Regions from separate parts of the Homo sapiens genome. Here regions 1, 2 and 4 are each linked to region 3. Evidence: fine-mapped expression QTL. A gene starts in region 3. Each other region holds a variant in brackets. All regions are shown on one strand. Distances are between the middles of the regions. Region 1 overlaps GLYR1 (glyoxylate reductase 1 homolog). Region 2 overlaps GLYR1 (glyoxylate reductase 1 homolog). Region 3 holds the start of ROGDI (rogdi atypical leucine zipper). Region 4 holds the start of LOC124903637 (a long non-coding RNA gene).

What was found. PIP is the estimated chance that this variant, and not a neighbour inherited with it, causes the effect. A credible set is the group of variants that fine-mapping cannot tell apart.
Region 1: its variant is the best candidate, but not a certain one, in a credible set for the expression of ROGDI in nucleus accumbens (GTEx, PIP 0.62).
Region 2: its variant is the best candidate, but not a certain one, in a credible set for the expression of ROGDI in transverse colon (GTEx, PIP 0.87).
Region 4: its variant is the best candidate, but not a certain one, in a credible set for the expression of ROGDI in whole blood (INTERVAL, PIP 0.60).

Annotation. Positions count from the first base shown.
Region 1 is chr16:4,821,027-4,826,061 of GRCh38, forward strand. GLYR1 (glyoxylate reductase 1 homolog) reads right to left here. Exons shown (of 16, transcript NM_032569.4): 6 at 2,795-2,881; 7 at 1,849-1,905; 8 at 521-571; 9 at 354-427. Among named protein-coding and RNA genes, the nearest start is that of ROGDI, 21 kb to the left of the region's middle. The variant G/C (reference allele first, on the strand shown) is at 1,943.
Region 2 is chr16:4,828,492-4,833,526 of GRCh38, forward strand. It overlaps GLYR1 (glyoxylate reductase 1 homolog), which reads right to left. Exons shown (of 16, transcript NM_032569.4): 4 at 4,283-4,421; 5 at 3,488-3,730. Among named protein-coding and RNA genes, the nearest start is that of GLYR1, 16 kb to the right of the region's middle. The variant C/A (reference allele first, on the strand shown) is at 2,335.
Region 3 is chr16:4,800,744-4,805,778 of GRCh38, forward strand. It overlaps ROGDI (rogdi atypical leucine zipper), which reads right to left and starts at 1,890. Exons shown (of 11, transcript NM_024589.3): 1 at 1,784-1,890; 2 at 1,639-1,710; 3 at 760-842; 4 at 524-578. The coding sequence starts at 1,828. GLYR1 (glyoxylate reductase 1 homolog) reads right to left here. Exons shown (of 16, transcript NM_032569.4): 16 at 2,460-4,567. The coding sequence ends at 4,493. RefSeq lists enhancers at 1,398-1,898, 3,945-4,239 and silencers at 1,404-1,463, 1,504-2,293, 2,186-2,397.
Region 4 is chr16:4,891,288-4,896,322 of GRCh38, forward strand. PPL (periplakin) reads right to left here. Exons shown (of 22, transcript NM_002705.5): 10 at 4,307-4,429; 11 at 3,974-4,120; 12 at 3,180-3,331; 13 at 2,254-2,351; 14 at 1,926-2,083; 15 at 748-926; 16 at 524-662. It overlaps LOC124903637 (a long non-coding RNA gene), which reads left to right and starts at 4,429. Exons shown (of 3, transcript XR_007064965.1): 1 at 4,429-5,035. RefSeq lists an enhancer at 3,971-4,816. The variant C/T (reference allele first, on the strand shown) is at 2,791.

The DNA of each region.
Region 1 (5,035 bases), 20 kb after region 3:
CTGGTTAAAAATACAAATTCTTGGGCCCCACCCGGACATATTGACTGAGAAGCCACCTTCCAGGTGACTGTCAGGCACAGGAAAGTCTGAGAACCACTGAGCCAAGTGCTCCTTGCTCTTGAGTTCTGGAGCCAAAAAAATCCCTCAGCTTATGCCCAAGGGAGACCCGACCACAGATTTACACAGCTTTTGACTCCTGTCTTTATCGATAAGAGTTACAACATCCCCCCACCTTTTCCATTCAATGCCAGCAATGGCTGGGACACAACCCTTAAAGAACCCCCCTGGGGTCACCTTCTCCCCACCCTCAGCAGAACCAGAGCCACTGGAGGCCTTTTCATCAAAGGTCCTACTTTTTGTCTGTGGGTGTGATGCTGCCATTCACGGCTGTGCTGTCAGCTGCCTGGATGGAGGTGGAGCCAGTTTCCTACGGACAGGAAGCACACATCATCAAGTCAGTCTGCCTGCAGTTTAAGGCCCCAGGTGAAAATTAAAATGGGGAGGCATGGAGCCTACATACCTCTTCACATATTTTCAACTTCTTCGTGATTGCCTGGTAACAGACAGCTGGCTAATGAAGGAGGAGGAAAGAGACTACTTGTGCTACTGCAGGCTTAACCAGTCTTCATAATAATCCCCTCAAAGGTTAGACCCAAAGTGGGAAGTTAACATCAACTATTTGTTTTATACTTTAGTGAACTCCAAATTTTACACTAGAAAGTTCATACACATTACCTCATTCAAGTCCCCATGCAATTCTACCAGGTCTTTTTGCTGACCATGGTGTTGAGAATAAGAGTCATAAGCTTGGAACCCACATCTATCCAACTCCAAAGCCACAAACTCTCATGAGATCCTAGCACGGCTCAGGCCACCCCATAACCTTGCAGACCTTGGGAGGACCTCCCTCTGCATCCGCAGGACTTGGAGACTACCTCTTGGAGTGAGCTTGAAGATGTGTCTGCCATGCAATTTCATGGGGTGCTGACAGCTTACGATGTTTGGTTTCTGCCCTAAACTCTAAAGGTCACTGTGACAGTCTCAACTACACAGCTGGCTGAGTTTTAAATGCTCTTCTGAGATAGAGTCTCGCTCTGTCGCCCAGGCTGGAGTGCAGTGGCACCATCTCGGCTTGCTGCAACCTTTACCTCCTGGGTTCAAGCGATTCTACTGCCTCAGACTCCCAAGTAGCTGGGATTACAGGAATGCACCACCATGCCCAGCTAATTTTTGTATTTTCAGTAGAGATGGGGTTTCACCATGTTGGCCAGGCTGGTCTTGAACTCCTGACCTCAGGTGATCCACCCGCCTTGGCCTCCCAAAGTGCTGGGATTATAGGCATGAGCCACCATGCCCGGCCTTTGGGTTTATTTATCTTTTTTGAGACAGAGTCTTACGCTGTTGCCCAGTCTGGAGTGCAGCGACGCAATCTTGGCTCACTGCAACCTCTGCCTCCCGGGTTCAAGCAATTCTCCTGCCTCAGCCTCCTGAGTAGCTGGGATTACAGGCACGCGCCACCATGCCCAGCTAATTTTTCTATTTTTAGTAGAGATGAGGTTTCACCATGTTGGTCAGACTGGTCTTGAATCCCTAACCTCATGATCCACCTGCCTCAGCCTCCCAAAGTACTGGGATGACAGGTGTGAGCCACCGCGCCCGGCCTGGATTTACTTTTAATCTTAACAATGCTTGGCTCATTAGCGGGCCCATATGGGGGCTTCTGGGCTAGTTGCTCTGGGCAATACACCGGCAGAGCCTAACTTTTCAGATGGCCAGGCCAGGACCCAGTGGAGGAGCACTCCTTGGCCAGCCCCTGACCAAGGGCCAAGAGCCTCAAAGGCAACTCACCTTCTCTGTTTGGCTTAGCAGGAAATGATGGAAATGAGGATCTGCATCTTTAACAGGCTGAAACCAGAAAACAGTGAAATAAAACCAGTTATCT[G/C]CCACCAAAGGTCACTTCCTTCTCCCTGGTAACTGGACTCTCCTCTGGCTGCAACACCTCTGGATTCTGGTCTCTTTTTCACAATTGTCTGGAAACTCTTTTCCCATTTTGGCCTAAGCCTTTTTATAAAAACAAGCCCCATTCCAGCTAGAGGAAAACTGGCTTTAAAGTGTAAAAGAATAGATGATTCTGCTAGGTTGGTACACAAATTATTCCAATGAGCCTGTGGGAAAATATTAACAAGCATACCTGTGCTTTATAAATTCGGTACTCATCAGGCACAGCAGATAACCCAGCAAACTAAGTCACATCTATTCTGGAATTTCAGGGTTTTGGCCTACTTGTGTCTGGTACCAAGCCCTTGGCGATCTCATCTTACTGAGCATATTAACAGAAACAGAGTAGCCACGACAGTGGACCTTCATGGGCTTTCCATAATTATGCCCAGCAACAGGTGTAGCCGCACCAAGGATAATAAAACTAAACATAAAAGTTGTATTTATGGACAATAAGAGGGTGTTTATAAAATATTAGGGGAAAAAAACTTGTGGAATCATCCCACTTTTGTGAAAAAGAACCCTGCCCAAAATAAAAAAAACTAGACATAGGTCTATAATCATGTAAATGAATGCTAAGTGGGCATCCCAAAGGACTGAAATCCGTCACCTCGAGCCTCACAGTGCTCACCCTAGAGGGAAATTTTTAATTTTTTATTTCATAGACTTCTGTACTGTTTTGTAATAATAAATTAAGCCTCACACACAAGAAAGGGACAAAAAAAAAAAAAAAAAGGATCACACAGGAACCTCGCCCTAAGCCACAGCTTGTCCTGCCTGCAGGAGAGCTCCTTACCTCGCTTGCGGTTGGCTGCCATTTAAACGCGGCCATCGGTCCGGCCATCATCCCCTTCACGGTACTAGACTCCGGGATGGTGAGATCCTATAGAGGGAGGGGCAGGGCATTTTAAAATCACATTCAAACCCCAACAAAACCCCTTGCAAGCTCCACAGTCTAAGGGAAAGTTCAAGCCAATCCCCAACCACTGTTCTGATGACCGTCCCTCGGGAGAAACAAGCCAGTTCTTCCCATTAACACAAAGTGAGTCTTTCTTCTCAATTCTGGAAATAATAAAATGTGTACTTATGTCTAAATTTCACAAAGATGGAGGTAATTAGAAAGCCCAAGTACGATCTGCAGTACTGTCTGCAAAGTTTCAGAGTAAATGCCTTATGGTGAATACCAAACATTAAGAAACAGTTGTGGTGGCTGGGCGTGGTGGCTCATGTCTGTAATCCCAGCACTTTGGGAGGCCGAGGCAGGCAGATCATGAGGTCAAGAGATCGAGACCAGCCTGGCCAACACGGTGAAACCCCGTCTCTACTAAAAAATACAAAAATTAGCTGCACCTGTACTCCCAGCTACTCCAGAGGTTGAGGCAGAAGAATCGCTTGAACCGGGGAGGTGGAAGTTGCAGTGAGCCGAGATTGCACCACCGCACTCCAGCCTGGAGACAGAGCAAGACTCCATCTCAAAAAAAAAAAAAAAAAGAAAAAAAAGAAACAGTAGTGGCTTCAGAAGGAATCCGCCATATTTCAAAGAAACGAATAAAACCACATGGGGCTGATGAGATCTGCCCACATTTTACAGCTATCATGACAAAGGCAGAATTAAACTCCAGGGTGGCCAGAGCCCAAGAGCCTGAGTTCTCCTGAGACGGACACAGGAGGACATGGTGAGATGAGAAGCTCCTCTTCATCGATGGCCCGGCTCACCTTCTTCCTGGGCAAAGGGTCCTCTTTCCAGTTTTAACACTGGTCTGGTCCCTCTCGACTGCTCTGATGTTACCTTGCACTCCCTTTCCCCAGTCACTCCCTTCCAGCCACAGTGGCCCTCTTGACACCCCCTGCCTAAACTACTCCTGAGGTTTTCTCAGTCTTAGAAAACGCCTGCTCCATTCTACTAGGCCGATATCTTTAGAGCCCTTCTTGACCCCTCTCTTCTCTAATCCACTGACAATGAATGGGGCTTTACAGTTGGCGATCTGCCCAACCCCTTCTTCTCACCATCCCTGCTACTAATACCTAAGCTCAGGCCACCTGGACAATTGCAAAAATAAATCTCCCTGCTTCCACTCACAGTCTAGTCTCTACACAGCAGCCAGAGTCAGCTACCAAAAGGGCCAATCAGATTATGATGCTTCTTTGCCTTAAACTGCCTTCCAGTCTCACATAGTAAAGCTACGGGCTTCATGAGCATGGTCTACAGGGAGGGTCTTGCAAGTTCTGCCGTCTCCCACCCATCCCACGCCAATCTCCAACCTCAAGTCCTATTTCTTCCCCCGTCACTGCTCTCTAGCTCGTTAGCACCCTGCTGGCTTTCCCCCCCGCACCAAACACACCAAGCATGTGCCTGCCCTGGCACCCTTGTGCTACTTGGAACGTTCTTCTGACAGTTATCTCCTTGGCTCAGGCTCGCTTTGGGACTCTGCTGAAATGTCACCTTATCAGAGTGGCTTCACCTGACCTCTTTTTATGTTTGCCCATAGAACATGATGCTGATGTGGATTATAATGAGAACAAATGCCTTCATAGGGCTTACTATGTGCTAGACATCACAATAAGTCCTATTTTATACATACATTCTCATGTAATTCTTGCCCCTTCATGAAACAGAATTATTATCATCTTCTTTTTTTTTTTTTGAGACGGAGTCTTGCTCTGTAGCCCAGGCTGCAGTGCAGTGGCACAATCTTGGCTCACTGCAACCTCTGTCTCCTGGGTTCCAGCGATTCTCCTGCCTCAGCCTCCTGAGTAGCTGGGACCACAGGCGCGCGGCCACCATGCCCAGCTAATTTTTTGTATTTTTAGTAGAGACGGGGTTTCACCATGTTAGCCAGGATGGTCTCGATCTCCTGACCTCGTGATCCGCCCGCCTCGGCCTCCCAAAGTGCTGGGATTACAGGCGTGAGCCACTGCACCCAGCCCTATTATAATCTTCTTTTACAGAATAGAAAACTAAGGCACACAGAGCTTAAGTAACCTTGCTTAAGGTCACCGAGTCAGTCACTGGTGTGGTAGACACAACTTATTTATT
Region 2 (5,035 bases), 28 kb after region 3:
GAACCTGCAGTATCTCCAACGTATGCTACACTACTCCCCAGATTAATAATTCAGACCCAAGGGCTGTCTGCAGTTTATTGGGAGCTCGTGAGACGAGTTCCTGTAAGCCTGGGCAGTGGCCTCTGGGGTTCTCACTGTACAAACGGCCAGTGTCTGCGAAACAAACCTAAAGAACTGATCAAATGCCTTGTACACAGGCACTGTTCTAAGTGCTGTGTCCATGTCACTCATTTAACTAACACAGTGAACCTAGGAGGCACGTACTGTTGTAATTCCTAACGATGAGACAAGGAAACTGGGGCAAAGGTGCTTTGCTAAGGTCCTATATACGTGATTCAAACTCCAGGCCCTCGTCATAACCTCTCCTTTGTACTTCCCTTTATCCAACGAGAAGGTATTTCTTTCCAGGGTGGCACAGGCACCGGTGAGATGCATGGCTTCACATACCAGACAATATCAATTTGGGAAATAGCATAAAATCTGACAGCCCAGATTCCTTTTGGATTCCAGGAAATAAACTCAGAAGTCACATTACATTTTTTGTGGGTCAATTTAGATCATGTTCCCTATAAAGTTCTCTCTGCACTGCAGCTGGCAGCTTTTCCAAACCTTGGGCTGACGGTATGCAGGGACAGCACTGCCACCCTTGCTCTCACCACTCCCTCAGCCTGAGGTCATCTAACAGTGAGAAGGGCTGTCTCTCACCAGAGGCCTCACACTGGCAGCCCACAGAGATGTTTCTATGGCCCCAAGACATATTTTTGAACTAAGCACATTTAAAATTGGGATATTTCACATAAAAACCTGTATTTCCAGCTTCTCTCTTTTTTTGGAGATAGGGTCTCACACTGTTGCCCAGGCTGGAGTGCAGTGGTGGAATTGTAGGTCACTACAGCCTTGACCTCCTGGGCTCAAGTGATCCTCCCACCCCAGCTTCCCAAGTAGGTGGGACTACAGGTGTGTACCACTATGCCCAACTAGTACTTTTTGTTTCTTTTTTTGTTGTTTTTTTTGAGACAGGGTCTCGCTGTGTCACCCAGACTAAAGTGCAGTGGCATAATCTTGGCTCACTGTAACCTCCACCTCCTGGGTTCAAGTGATCTTCTCATCTCAGCTTTCTGAGTAGGGGGGACTACAGGCACACACCACCAACCCCAGCTAATTTTTAATTCATTTATATTAAATTTTTTTTTTTCTTTGAGACGGAGTCTCACTCTGTCGCCCAGGCTGGAGTGCAGTGGCGCAATCTCGGCTCACTGCAACCTCTGCCTCCTGGGTTCACGTGATTCTCCTGCCTCATCCTCCCGAGTAGTTGGAATTACAGGAGCGTGCCACCACACTCGGGTAATTTTTGTATTTTTAGTAGAGACGGGGTTTCTCCATGTTGGTCAGGCTGGTCTCGAACTCCCGACCTGAGGTGAACCACCTGCCTCGGCCTCCCAAAGTGCTGGGATTACAGGTGTGAGCCACTGCACCCAGCAAAAAAAATTTTAATAGAGATGGGGTTTCCCTATGTTGCCCAGGCTGGTCTAGAACTCCTGGGCTCAGGGGATCCTCCTGCACTGGCCTCCCAAAGTGCTAGGATTACAGGTGTGAGCTACCATGCCTGGCCAATTTTTTAGTTTTTGTAGAGCTAGTCTTCAACTCCTAAGCTCAAGCAATCTGCTCACCTCAGCCTCCGAAAATGCTGGGATTACAGGCATAAGCCACTGCACCTGGCCAACTTTGTCTTTTTTTTTTTTTTTTTTTTAAGGGAAAGGCTCTTACTATGCTTCTCAGCCTGGTCTTGAACTCCTGGGCTCATGTGATCTTCCTGCCTCAGCCTCCCAAAGTGCTATGATTGCAGGTATGAGACACCACAACTGGCCTTCCCAGCTTCTCTTGAGAAAAAACAGACAATTTGGCAGAAGCTGGCTAGAACCCTGTGGACAGAGCATGACCTCCCCAGACTCCCTGACCATGGCCAGCCCTGCTGCTCTGAGCACCAAGGCAGGTCAGCTGGGGTGCCTGGCACCCGTGCCACTGCTTCTTAGGTCCAGTCAGCTACAGTTGCTTCCATTACCTGCCTGGGCTCGCTGGTGTCTGAATTTTTGAGCCTTGATCCAAGGTCTAATGTTCCATCATGGCCTCGTCACCCAACTGTTGCTGCCAGCCATCTGGCTTCTGTTCTCTTTATCCTGCTGTTGACAATCCTACCGCGTTCCTGACACAGTCCCCTTCACTTTGAAATTCTTCTCTGTGGCCTTGTAAGACCGGCCCCAAATCTTGTCAGCAAGAAGGCGAGAGAGGCACTCTCACTGCTTTATCTCATCTTGCTAGCTCCTCCTGCTCCTT[C/A]CTGCCCCAAGCACGGCATTCTTGTGGCAATGCAGGCCTCCGCGCTTCCCTCTTCTCCCTCTCTTCCTGAAACAAACCCATTCCACTGCCCGGACTCAACTACCCTTTTACAAATTCACCTCCCAAATCTACATTTCTAGTCCTGAGGTCACACCAAGCTCCCAGGCTGTCTAGGCCTTGCCTCAAGTTCTTGACATTCCAAACAGAACTGGTACTCTTTCTCCACAAGCCACCTCTACATCCCCAGTCCTCTACTTTTAAGAAAGTGATGACCACTTTCCCAGGAATGAAGATGGAAATCCTCTTTTCCTTTTTCTCATTCATCCTCTATATAACCAATTATGGAATCTTAAGAACTCTTCCTCTGAAGTGCCTCTCACCTCTTTGCTTGCAACATTTGCAATTACCCCCTTATGAATGCACGCCTAGACTTACCTCCTAATTGGCTCTGAGACTTTCCCCTCTGCACTCGGTGACTACTGGTGCACACACGGGAGGCACACACTGCCACTGGCTCAGTCACCTTCCCGGGCCCCCACTGACTCCAAGACGCTTTAGTACCACGCTGCTTCAGTAGACCTTCAGGCCCTCCACGATCCAGGGACAAGCTTCCTTTTTCTCGGCTTTCCTCACTATCCTCTCCCTGTTCGAGAGTATCTCCACCAGCACCGAGCCTCACACGGGCTGTGCCCTCCATCTTTGGAATGCCTACCCTTCTTTCTTGCTAAGCCCCTCCCAGGGCCAGCCCTTGTGCACCGGCTCAAGTGGACTGCTCTCCTGCCTCGCGCTCCTACTTTACACCTGCATCCAGGCCGTGTCTCTCACCTGGTCTATGGGATTCTTTATTTTTTAATTTTTTAAATAAGATTCGGGGTCTCACTCCATCACCCAGGCTAGAATGCAGTGGTGCAATCGGCTCAATGCAACTTTGAGCTCCAAGGCTCAAGCCATCTTCCTGACTCAGCCTCCTGAGTTGCTGGGATAAAGCATGAGCCACCGCACCTGCCCTGCAGGATTCTTGAGCACAGAATTCTGCTCCCACTCCATGAGCAGAGTATAGATAAGCATACTACATAAGCATACTGTAGAGCTTAACTCTACCTTGTACTAAAAGGACATCACTAATCCCGGAAGCTGCAGAGAGAAAACAAACCTTCTCATCCTTTGGGGGCCGACCCCGCTTCCGGGGACTTTGCTCTTGGGCTCTTTTCAGAGGGGATTTGGAGCCTCTCTCTGAAGAGCCTGAAGACACCCTCTTCTTTCCTTCTCCCATGTTCTTCTTCACCTTCCCTTCAGACAGGCTAAGTTTGCGCTTCTCATCACCTGAGTTTGGCCTACTTCTCTCCTCACTGGAATTACGTCGATTCTTGTCATCAGAAGAATTGTGGGATGACGTCTGAAAGTTTAATAATAATAATGATAACTACCACCACAGCTGCTGCCGCCATCGCCACCATCATTTACAGGTGCCATGTGCTGCTACAGGCACTCTGTGTGGTCTCCTCACAATGACCCTAGAAATAGATTCTGCTGTCGTCCCAGACATTGGGAGAAGCAGATTTAAAAAATATATATATCAAAAGTCACTTTCCCTATGTCCCAAAACTAGAAGAAAGGATTTAAATCTAGGCAGTATATGTATTTCAGAGGCTATGCTCCTAATCTGTGTGCTATGAAAGGAAGAAATGGCCTGTGCTAGACTCAAATGCTGAGATATTTCTCCTGGGTCCAAGCAATTTTCCTAAAAGCAACAACCTACTCCAGAAAGGTTAGCTGCATGGAGTTTCAAACTGATAAGCAAAACGCTGACACCTTAGAACTGAAGTAGCTTTCTCCAGTAGCATTTCAGAAGAACAAAGGTTTGCGTTTGGGTGACATTTAATCTGTTAGTTGCTATGCAAAAATCACCAGTCTGGCATTGGTAGAAAGTGAACATTGTGTCTCTCACCTGGTCTTTCCCTTTGGCTCTCCTGAGGAACTCTTCGACAGCATCTACCGCTTGCTGGAATCGTTTACCCTTGTTAATTTTTATCATTTCCTCTTTATGAGCATGATATGGCTTCAGCTGTTCCACTTTGATCCAGGCACTAGCAGAAAACAAACACAAAAAGGGTGTGAACCATATAGCATATGCCCTAAAGTATCAACAACCTCACTATGGCACGGTGTAAATATCCATTTGGTTTAACTGGACTTTGCAATAGGCCTTGCCATTTCTTTCAAAACATGCTATCAACCATCTCAGAGTCTTATGTCTAAAGTATATTTTCTTGAAACAAGTCAAGCAGAACAACCATCACCACCACTGCAGCAACCACAAATCAAGTTCCTCCAGTGAAAGCACTGTGTTGCAGATTATTTATTTCCACAATCGTCTATCAGCCTCCAATGCCCAACCACATATACGCTGCCACTTGCTCAGGGCAGAAAGAAATCTGGAGACCCTTTCCCATTCTCACCAGGCAGCACAAATGGCCACACACAGATCCCTGGGAATCAGGGTACCTGGAAATGTGATAGATGATAGCAGCATTACTATGCAGGAAAATGCCTGCTGCCTGTCAACAATGGGAACCAGATTTATGATCTGTTGATCCACAGAGAGTCAGGGATGTTACAGAGCTGAAGAAATGCAACATCTTCTAAAATTTGTGGTTCCTATGGATATTCACAGCCACTGAGCCTATATTTGTTCATAAAT
Region 3 (5,035 bases):
AGGGAGGTCAGGAAACAGGAAACCAGGCCCAAGAAGAGCCACAAAGAAGTGAAATGGAAAGAGGTGAAGAAAGGGGAAGGGGAAGAGGAAAGGCAGCCTCTGTGAGGCTCTGTGCGAACGGGGTGCATCTAGTGTCTACAAAGGGCAACAGATGGAGCCCAGGAGGGGGGCCTCCCCCCACGCCTTGGTGCCTGGCACAGAGTCGGGTGCAGACTGGAGTTCAGGCATTGGCTGATTCAACTGTGATGTGTGGCCAGCCTAATCCACCAATGCCCATGTTTCACTGGTCCGGACGCCAGGCCAGGCCGTGTGCAAAGAACCCCTCTCCTGCACCTCTTACTGAATCTGCACACCGATCCCGGGAGAAGGTGTGAGGGTTGCTGTCATTTTCCAAAGGAGAAAACTGAGGCCAGAGAGATCAAGGGTCCCGCCCAGAGTCGCAGGGCTTGTACAGAGAGAAAGTGGGAGCTCCCATGCTCTTCCCCATTGGCAGGATGGGAGGGGACAGGGCCGGGGGACTCACCGCCTGGCTGAGGGCATCCCCCTGCAGAGTCAGCACACCCTTCACCTGGTCTGTGCTGTAACATGTGGCGTCAGAGCGGTGCCTGTGGTCACCCCCCCACCACCCAGCCCTCCCTCCCGGCGGGCTGCCCCTCCTGTCCCATCGCACAACCAGCTGGTCTGCAGGACAGGGCTATGGCCATGCCTCCTACCCCCCAAGGTACCCATTTCCCCGGTTTCCGCCTAGCCCAGGCTCACCCACAGCTGCCTAGGATGAAGTTCTCTTGCTTGGCGGGCCCCTCAGTGCCGGAGCCCGGCAGAGTGAAGCGCAGAGAGGCCTCCTGTGGAACAGAGGGAAGGAGGGGAGCTGGTAGCGCCCACTCAGGCCCGGCCCAGTGCTCCTTCCAGAAGCCCCCCTCCCTCCAAGTCAGCGGGGGGAAGGAACAACGTGGCCTGGCCTCACCTGGGTTCAGCTGGGGTGGGAAGACCCTGCCCAAGCCCCCAGGGCACCTAACCGTGAGCCCGATCTCTGCTTATACCACATTCCCTGAACACCTCCTGTGTGCCCGCCTCGGGGAATACAAAACAGACAGGGGCAGCCTCCCAGCTTGGTTGAGGGGGAAAGGGGCAAGGGGCAGAGTCAGGGAACAAGGCAGTAGTTATGGTAACCCGCGGTCCTGGGCCACAGCAAGCACTACGCCGGTTACTTCTGTGAGCTGCCTGGCTCATTTATCTACACCCCAGCCTCGCGAAGCGGGTACTGTTATCTCCCTTTTGCCAATGAGAAAAGGGAGGCCCAGGGAGGTTCAGTGACTTGGCTGAAGTCACACTGCCAGGCAGAGGCAGAATTCTTCGGCTCCCAGATTGGATGCCGCTGCTCCCAAGGCGGCCTTCCCCGACCCGAGGCCGGGCGGGACTCAGGCCCTTGCTAGCACCCTCGTCGGGACCCGCCCCTGCCCGCACACAGGTACTTATATAATGAGGTCGGCTCGAGTTCGCGGAGGCGGGGCCCTGCCTGAAAGCCGCGGCAGCCGCACACTGTAGGCGCTCAGGACGCAGCCGCGCGGCCCCAGGTGGAGCCAGGGAAATGAGGAGGGAGGGCCGCCACGCCCGGCGGGGCAGGGCGCGGGTCGTTACCTTGAGGATGTCCTGCAGCTGCTTCAACACAGCGTGCACCTCGTCGTGCAGCAGCCAGCGGAACTCCTCCTCCTGCGGGACAGACCCGGCGGTCGCGCCCGGCCCCGCCGCCCCGCCGGCCCGCCCGCTGGCCCGCGCGCCTTACCAGCACCGCCCGCTCCGCCGCCGTCGCTGCCATCACGGTGGCCATGGCCGCAGGCCGCCGCCGAGCGCCCTCCCCACCGGCCGCTGCTCCTGTCCACCAATCTTTCTGTCCTCGGTCCTCCGGTCCTCCCGTCCGCCCCCGGCGTCTGGCTCCGCCCCCACCCGATTGGCGGAGCGGGTACCACCCCGCCCCCAGGCCGGCTCCGTGCTCGCGATTGGCTGGCGCCTGTCGGTCCGCCTCGGCCCCCGAAACCTGCGGGAGCCCTGGAACCAGACTGGCGGCTGCGGGAGTGAGGCTCGCTCCGCCTGGCCAGGGACGCGGCCGGCGGCTGCACGAGTCAGGCTTGCTCCGGCTGGCCAGGGACGCGGCCGGCACCAGCCTGGGGCGCCCGCTTGGGGGCGGAGCTCCCGGGGCGCCCCCAGGATATGATAGGGCGCTCTGCTCCACTCGCGCTCACTCATTGGCCGGCAGGACAGTCTGTCCCCGCTCCTCCTCCCTATTGGCCCGCTTGGCTCCATTGGTCGTGGTTCCAACCCTGCCGCGGACCTCGCCGCCACTCCCAAGTCCGTCTCACCCCGGACGCGGAGGTCCCGAAAACCCACCCCGGCCCCGCCGCTGCCTTCTCCTCCCACCCATCTCGCCGAGGACGAGGGAAGCAGGACTCCTGCGGCACAGCTGTGTTACCAAGAAGTGTTTTATTTTTCTTGCAGTAGCTTTGTTAATTGCACAAAATCATGTTTTGTTTTTGCCATTTAAACATTATCACACAATCCTATTCTGAAAGACAAATGTTCATTAAAAACAAAGCAAAAATAAAAATTCACAACCTTAATTACCTAGATTTGTCATTTAAAGGTTTAAAGAAAAAAGGGAGGGGCTTTCTTACAAGCTTTTTCACAAGTGTCACATTTTCTCCTTAAAAGGGAAGGATTTCAAAAGAAAGGTGAAATAGCTTAAACAGAAATATTCATAAAAAGGAACTTTACAGAATTGTCAACAATATTAAGACAAAATTGACTAACCGGTTTCATTACCGCATCTTCCCCCGCCCCCACCCCCAGTGTGTTCCGCCAGGACTAGAACAGGCTTTGTGTTCAGACAGAAATGCTTCAAAATCCCAGTGAAATGAACTGTGCTAAAAACCCGACAGGCATCTTCCCTGCCCTCCCCCCACTCGTCTTCTGCAATCCTCTAACCCAGTTTCTAATCTCTGAAAGGGGCCAAAGCTGTGAGGGGGGAAGGACCCCGCCCTAGTGTGGCCACCCTATATATAATTACATATTGCATCGTAAATGCTGGCCTTCCTTCTGCAAATTATGATTTTGGAAAATCCAACCCATGCAGAGGGATAAAAAACTGACATCCCTTGGGTAACTTTTTTTTTTGCAACATTCCAAGCCCCCCCCGGTCCCCTATCCAAGGACAAATGTAGGGCCTCTAGGATGTCCCAGACCCACCTCGGAGGGCCAGTCAGTTCAGGTAGGTCAGGCCCAGTTCTCTTCCCTCCCGACAGACCCCGGGCCCGGGAAGCACCGAAGACCATGATGCTGGCTGGAGTGAAGACACTCGTTTCCGTATCAAGAGCTGAGCCTAAGAAATGCTCATCGTTGGTCAGGCTGGGTCTGGGCCAAAGGGACAGACAGAAAGAAATACTGTCTCCACGGGAGGAAGAGGGAGAGGAGGGAGGATGGAGAGCGGTGGGCATGCAGGGGACTTGGCAGGGCAGGGTGGAGAAGGTGGGACCACTGGGAGGGGACCGAGGTAAGAGTGGCTCTTCAGAGCCAGGTGAAGAGTCTGTGGCCTAACGGAAACAGAAAGGAGCGCCCCCAACCCCCACTCCTCTTGGCTCATCACTAGTGGCCCTGAGGACTCCCTCCCAAGGGATGGAATGCAAATCCAAATACTAAAACAGCCTAGGGAGGAGCGAGCGCCCGCTGTGGCAGTGGCATCTGGGGCATGGCTTCGAGGCGGTGAGGGCCGGGCCTCCATGCTCACCTGCAGGCCGGCTGCTTGCTGCACTCCCTGGAAAGCCAGGGCCCCATCTTCTCGGGACTCTGCCAGTCTCTTTTCAGTTCACAAAGGCGTCTATGGAGCGCTGGGTGCACACTGGACGCTTAGACGTGAACATCTTTCTCAGCTCATCACCTGAGGTTGGAGGGCCCCAAGGGCCCCTCTGTCTGGAGTCTGTACTGGCTCATCTGGGCCCAAGGCCTCTCCTTGTAGGGAATCCAGTGGGGGATGGGGACATGACTACAGCCTCTTCGCTCTGGGGGAAGCTGTGGGAAGGCTTCCAACTCTCGTTGCTGATTCTAGTTCCTTGACTGGAAGGGGTTTGAGATAAGACAAGCTCGGAAGAAAAAAAGCCAGGCAGCAGTTTCTGGGCAGCTTCTATCCTGGGGCGAGAGCCTGTGTGTGTGTGTGTGTGTGTGTGTGTGTGTGTGTGTGAACACACAGCCACCTCGTCCGGGGGGCCAGTGCCCAGCTCAAGAGCTTTCCCACACGCCAATCCTGCTGACACTTGTCCCCTCCCCACCGGCCTCAGGGGAAGGGTGCTGCTGTGTGCTGTGCTGATGGCAAGTCTCAAAGTCTGTATAAAAGGAAATGGAGATAGGTGGGCTGGTCCAGAATGAACTCCCAGGCCCCCGACCCCATGTGAGGAAGAGGGGGTCAGAGGGGGGATTGGAGGGGTGAGGGCGGGGTGTCGACAGCTTAGTGTATGTAGGCTCGGTACACGGCGGACATATCGTTGTCAGACTGGTCCAGCGCCTTGGCTCTTTTGTACACCTGGAAAAAAAAGAGATGGCTCAGTCTCTGGCCCCAGAGCTGCCTTCAAGACCTAGACCTGATTCCTGGAGGCAGTGGTGGATGTGGCCAGCAGGCAGTGCTGGAGCCCAGGCTGTCCGGTTAGGAATCCTGTGTTGACCTTGCATGAAGCACCTCCGTTTCTCTGGACCTCAGCCACTGTGCTTCTTGCTCTGGGAGAAGGAACAGTACCCGGGGGATCTTGTGAGAATGAAATACACTATGGGATATAAAACATTCAGCATTGGCCGGGCACTGCGGCTCATGCCTGTAAGGCCGAGGTGGGTGGATCACCTGAAGTCAGGAGTTCGAGACCAGCCAGGCCAAAAAGGTGAAACCTCATCTCTACTAAAAATACAAAAATTAGGGCCAGGCGCAGTGGCTCATGCCTGTAATCCCAGCACTTTAGGAGGCCAAGGTGGGTGAATCACGAGGTCAGGAGATCAAGAC
Region 4 (5,035 bases), 91 kb after region 3:
GGGAAGGGGGCCCGTGGCAACTGCGAGGTAAGCAGGCCGAGAAGGCAGCTGCTCCTCTGCCCACTGACTTGCCCTCTGAGCTGCAGCCCAGGATGCCAGCTCTGCTCAGCAAGAGATACTGGGAACATGGATTGTTATGTGCTTTATGCTTTTTTTTTTTTTTTTTTTTTTTTAAGAGATAGGGTCTTGCAACGTTGTCCAGGCGGCTGGACTTAAACTCCAAGGCTCAAGCAATCCTGCCCCAGCCTCCTGAATGGCTGGTGTTACAGGCATGTGCCACTACACTGGCTATTGCAGATATTTGATCTTAAAATGCTGGCACCCGAAATCCCGTAAGTCACACAGATCCCGTGAATAGCTTGGATTTGTGCTGTGGGCCTCCATTTGCAGTTCCCAATTTGGGCATTCCAAACCTGGGGAGACTGGATGCTGGTGTCCTCATCTATCCAGACGGGCGGGTGGATGTGCCAGATGCTCTCACCTGCTCAGAGAAGGACTCCCAGGACTTGGGCCCTAGACTCACCGCCAGCTCCTGCCCCTTGCTGTCCAGGACACGGCTGCTCTCAGGCACTGTGTCATCCTGATTCAGATGGTTCTCGTGTGTGGCCAGCAACTCCCAGCTCTGCTGCAGGCTCTTCTCCAGGCGGTTGGCCACATCAACCCTGAGAGCACCAATCAGGCGTCGGGGGATGCCCACCTGGCCCCCTGACCCCACCCCAACCTCCATGCTGCCTGTCTGCCACCCACTTCTCCTGGGCCAAGTCCAGCAGCTGCAGGAGGTGCTCGTATTTCCGGTTGGTGTCCTCCACCCGGGTCCTCAGCAGGGGTGTGGTGCCACTGCCTGGGAGGGCCTGGATGAAGGCTTCGCCCTCAGCCGTGCTCCGCGTCTTCTCAGGTTCAATCCGCAGTAGCTCGTTGGTGATGTTCTGTGGGAACCAGGGCCCCTCAGTTTTGGACACAGCCAGGCAGCCCCTTCCCCTGAGGATGTGCCCAGGGTGAGCACAGATTCCCACATCAGGCACAGTGGAAGCAGCTGGAGAGGCCTGGCACATTCTGGGGCTCTGACCCGGCATCTGGACCCCAGCCTGAGGGCTGTATTTTTCACGAGCATCCCAGGGAACCGCTGAGGTGGAATGGACTAGTGACACCAGAAGCACCCAGGCAGCTGCCGGGCCTGTGCTGTCCTCAGCACTGCACGCGGACGCTTCTGTTTAATCTTTGCGGCAACCCCGGGAGGTGAGTACTACGACTCCACCCAGTCACGGGTGGGGGTGTGACGACTCCCAGCAGCTTAGGAAGGGACTTGTGGGGTCAGGCTACACCCGAGACCGGCATCCTCTCGCCCTGACTTGGCTCTCACTCTGAGGCCCCATCAGGGGCTATGGCACTTCTCCAATCCCAGATCCTCTTCTGTAAAATTGGAGTGCTACTCACTGCCTCAGAGGGCTGCCTTGAGGATGTGGGAGACTTTGTATAGGAAAGGAGGTGGGGGGAGGTGGCCCCTCCACGTCCCCCCTGGCATCAGCTCACCCTGTCCTCGCCACTGCCCTGTGAGCAGGGCCAACCCATCCTACTGAAGACACTGAGGCCTGGAGTTTATAAATACAAACGCTAACGTGTTTGCAGTCAAGCCAGCCGGTGACCCAGTCCTGCGGAATTCCACAGCCCATGTGCCATGCCAGGCGTCAGATCGACAAGCCGTGCAGGAACAATGCAAGTCCTGCCAGCTCTTTCTCCTGGGGAGGTAATGACAGCAGCCCTGCCACCTCCATGACTTGGGACCCTTTTACATGCAGCAGGCTGTCCCTGACAGACAGCTGCAGTGAATATCCCAAGACTCCATGGGGAAAAGACCTCAAATAGGGGCCCCAGGGGGCCAGTGCAGGGCTCCCCCGGCCCCACCTGTGCTCCTGACCCGCAGGTACCTTGAGGTCCTTGGCCCGCTCGGCACTGTCCTGCACAGCCCGGCCTTGCTCCAGTGGTGGCCGCAGGATCCCTGTGATGGCCTTCTCCTGCCGGTCCAGGTCGCTGGCCACCTTGTCCAAGCCAGCCAGCAGCTGCCGCCCCTGTAGGTCAGAGGCATCTGTGGAGGGAGGGAGGACACAGGCAGGTGTGACAACGGGCCAGGGGTGTGAGGCCCAGGGATGGACCTAGGCAGCCAGCCCCCCGCCGTCTCATCCACAGCACAGACCCTGGTCCAGCCCCTCCTCCCCGGTACCCCCAGAGCCTCAGGCGAGTGGCCCTGGCACCCACCTCCGGGATTCTCGGTCTTCAGCACCTCATACCGCTGCTGCAGCGTGCGTTTGCTCCCAGCTGCCTTCTGCCGCACGCTCCGGTACTGGCTGCCCAGGCTGTGAGGACAGAAATGAGCTGGGAACCTGGGCAGCCCACCACCCCCTGCACCCACAGAGGCGGGACTGCGGACTCTGGCTGGGCAGACACCCCAGAGGAGCCTGACAGCTCCTTAGATGCGGACAGCAAGTGCTCACTGTGGCACTGGCCTTTCTGTGCTCCTGGGCTCAGAGCTCTTCTCCCTCCTTCCCTCCTCTTTCGTAGGAAGTCTCACTACCTAAAATTGTCTGTCCAATAATCACCACCAAGATGTTACTTCTGAGGGAGCATACACAGTAGGTGCTCAATAAATACTTAATAAATGAAGGCATTCCTTGAATGATCCACTCATTCAGCAAGGAGTTCCTGGGCACCTACTTTGTACCAGGTACTTAACTAGGCCCTGGAGAGAGGAAATTCAAGGAGCCCAGGCCCAATGAGACTGACGCATACGCTAGT[C/T]ACTTAATAAAAAGCGGTGCGTGCAGTGGAAGAAGGTGCCTGGGAGCAAAGAGGAGGCAGCCCTTATCCCAGCTGAGTCCTCCAGCCAAGGGGCTGGGGTCTGCAAGTACAGGGAGCAGTGCGTGCGGGAGTCAGGGGCCCTTAGAAACTGCTTAGAAACTCGTGAGGGGGCCAGGACGAAGCCCAGAGCTAGACATTCATGTTTAGCAAGTCAGCTGGCCCACAATCTGCCCCTCTCCTGCATGAACTTCCAAGGGGGTGCAGATGGAGAGTGTCAGCGACCCCGCGCTCCCCACAGGCTGAGTCCAAATCCCCGGGGCTATGAATGGGGCCTGAGAAGCCCTGGGGGTGGGACTGGTCCATGCAGACTCCCGCCTTTGCCCTTGTACCTGTCAGCCAGAGCCAGGGCCTCAGGGTCTGTGGGGGGGATCACAAAACACACGGCCGGAGCAATCAGCTTGTTCCCAGCGCTGTCCATGAGCTCCCAGCTCTCCCCGTTGTTCTTCTGCAGGGTGTAGCTGTAGCCCCGCGAGATCAGGCCCTGGCGGGGGCAGGCTGGACAGTCAGGATCCCGGCAGGGCCTGAGGGCCTGGGAGCCCGGTTGCCATCTCAGCCCCCGACTCTTGGACCTGGGGAGCCCCGGCTCATCACTTGGACCCTCCCCGTAGAGTGGGGAGGGGCATGCAGGAGAAGCACATGTGTTGAGGCTGCCGGCCCAGCAACCCACCTCCATTTCCCTTTGGGGAACCTTCCCTCCCAATTCCCAGTCCCTGTGGTCTCTCCTTCTCCATTCCCAAGCTCCAGATGGACATGTGACTTGGACCTGGCCAATGACTGGCATTCGCCAGCCACAGTCATTGGTATAGGGTGGACCCTGGCATTCCCTGGCCACAGTGATTGGTGTAGGATGGACACGTGACTCACAGTGAGCCAATGAGAACCTGGCCTGGGACTTCTGAGGAGGGACTGGGGTTGCTAAGCTGGTGGAACACAAGGCCAGGGCAGCCGAGGTGGGGGCGGCATAGGGGTGCCAGTTGGCCTGCACCAGGGGAAGGGTTGGCAGAGTGACACCAACCACGGAGACAGGCACAGGCTCCTGAGAACGGCGCCTGAGGCCCGGGATCCAACCATGTTACCCCAAAAACTTTGTAGTGATGTGAACAGAGGAGCTGGCCCCACGCACCTGCTCCCCCTCAAAGTCACAGAGTGCCTCCACGGGGATGGGCTTGAGCGGAGTCTCCCGGCGGTACTTGAGGGGCACCACCTGCTGGCCTCGCTTCTGCAGCCCCTGCACCACGTCCTCATACTTGTCCAGCACCTTCTCCTGGTCCTGGAGAGAACGGGGTCAGGGGCCCAGGTGAGACCAACAGCCTTCCCCCTGGTGGGAGGACGCAGAGCAGGGGCTGGATTCAGCAGGTGGGGTGCTGTGGAGGGGCCTGTACAGGGCTGAGGGCAGGCATGGTGTAGAGGGGTCCCCCGCCCCCCGGGCCAGCAGGGGTCCTGGGCCATCGCTCACATCCAGCTCCCGCAGCAGCAGCTCAATCTGGTACCGGTCCTTGAAGTCAGGGCCATACTTCTGGTTCAGGTCCGAGTCCACCTTGCGCAGCAGCTCCTGAGCGTCCTTCACGTCTTCGTGAAACTAGGGGAGAAGGTGGCTCTGTTACAGCCAGGAAACCACTAGAAGCACCTGGGCTTCTGTCGGAGGCTTCAAGCTCATCCCTCAGGCGGGGCTGGGCCTCCGGTTCACCTGGAGTCCAGCATGGGACCCTGTGCTGAGCCTGAGGCTCCTCTGCGTGGAGACAGCCCCACCCTCCCTGAGCTGGCTCCTTAGGGGCCTCACTGGGAAAAGCCAGGTCCCTTCCCACCCATCCATGAGATGCCACCTCTGTGACATGTTTTCTTGGATGTATCAGTAAGTCTTGAGGTGTCTTTGATTCAGTTCCTCTCTCTGTACTAGGAACATCCAGACTTAATACTATAGCTTCTTTCTAGGTTTTGATAATAGCCTCCCCTTTTTGTTCTCGAAAATTCTCTTGCCCATTCTTCAGTCTATCAACTCTTGGTTCACTGTCAGCTATCCCCTGGGCTGAGCACCTGGGCTGCAGCCATAAACAGGACCTGAAGCCCCCACTGTGCGGCTCAGACAGGGAATGAGGAGTGACACGGCGTCGCCCACATCCAGCTTTCCCCAGACACCTCAATCCTAAGAATTACCCGCAGCTTCTTAAGAACTCTCATTCCTCTG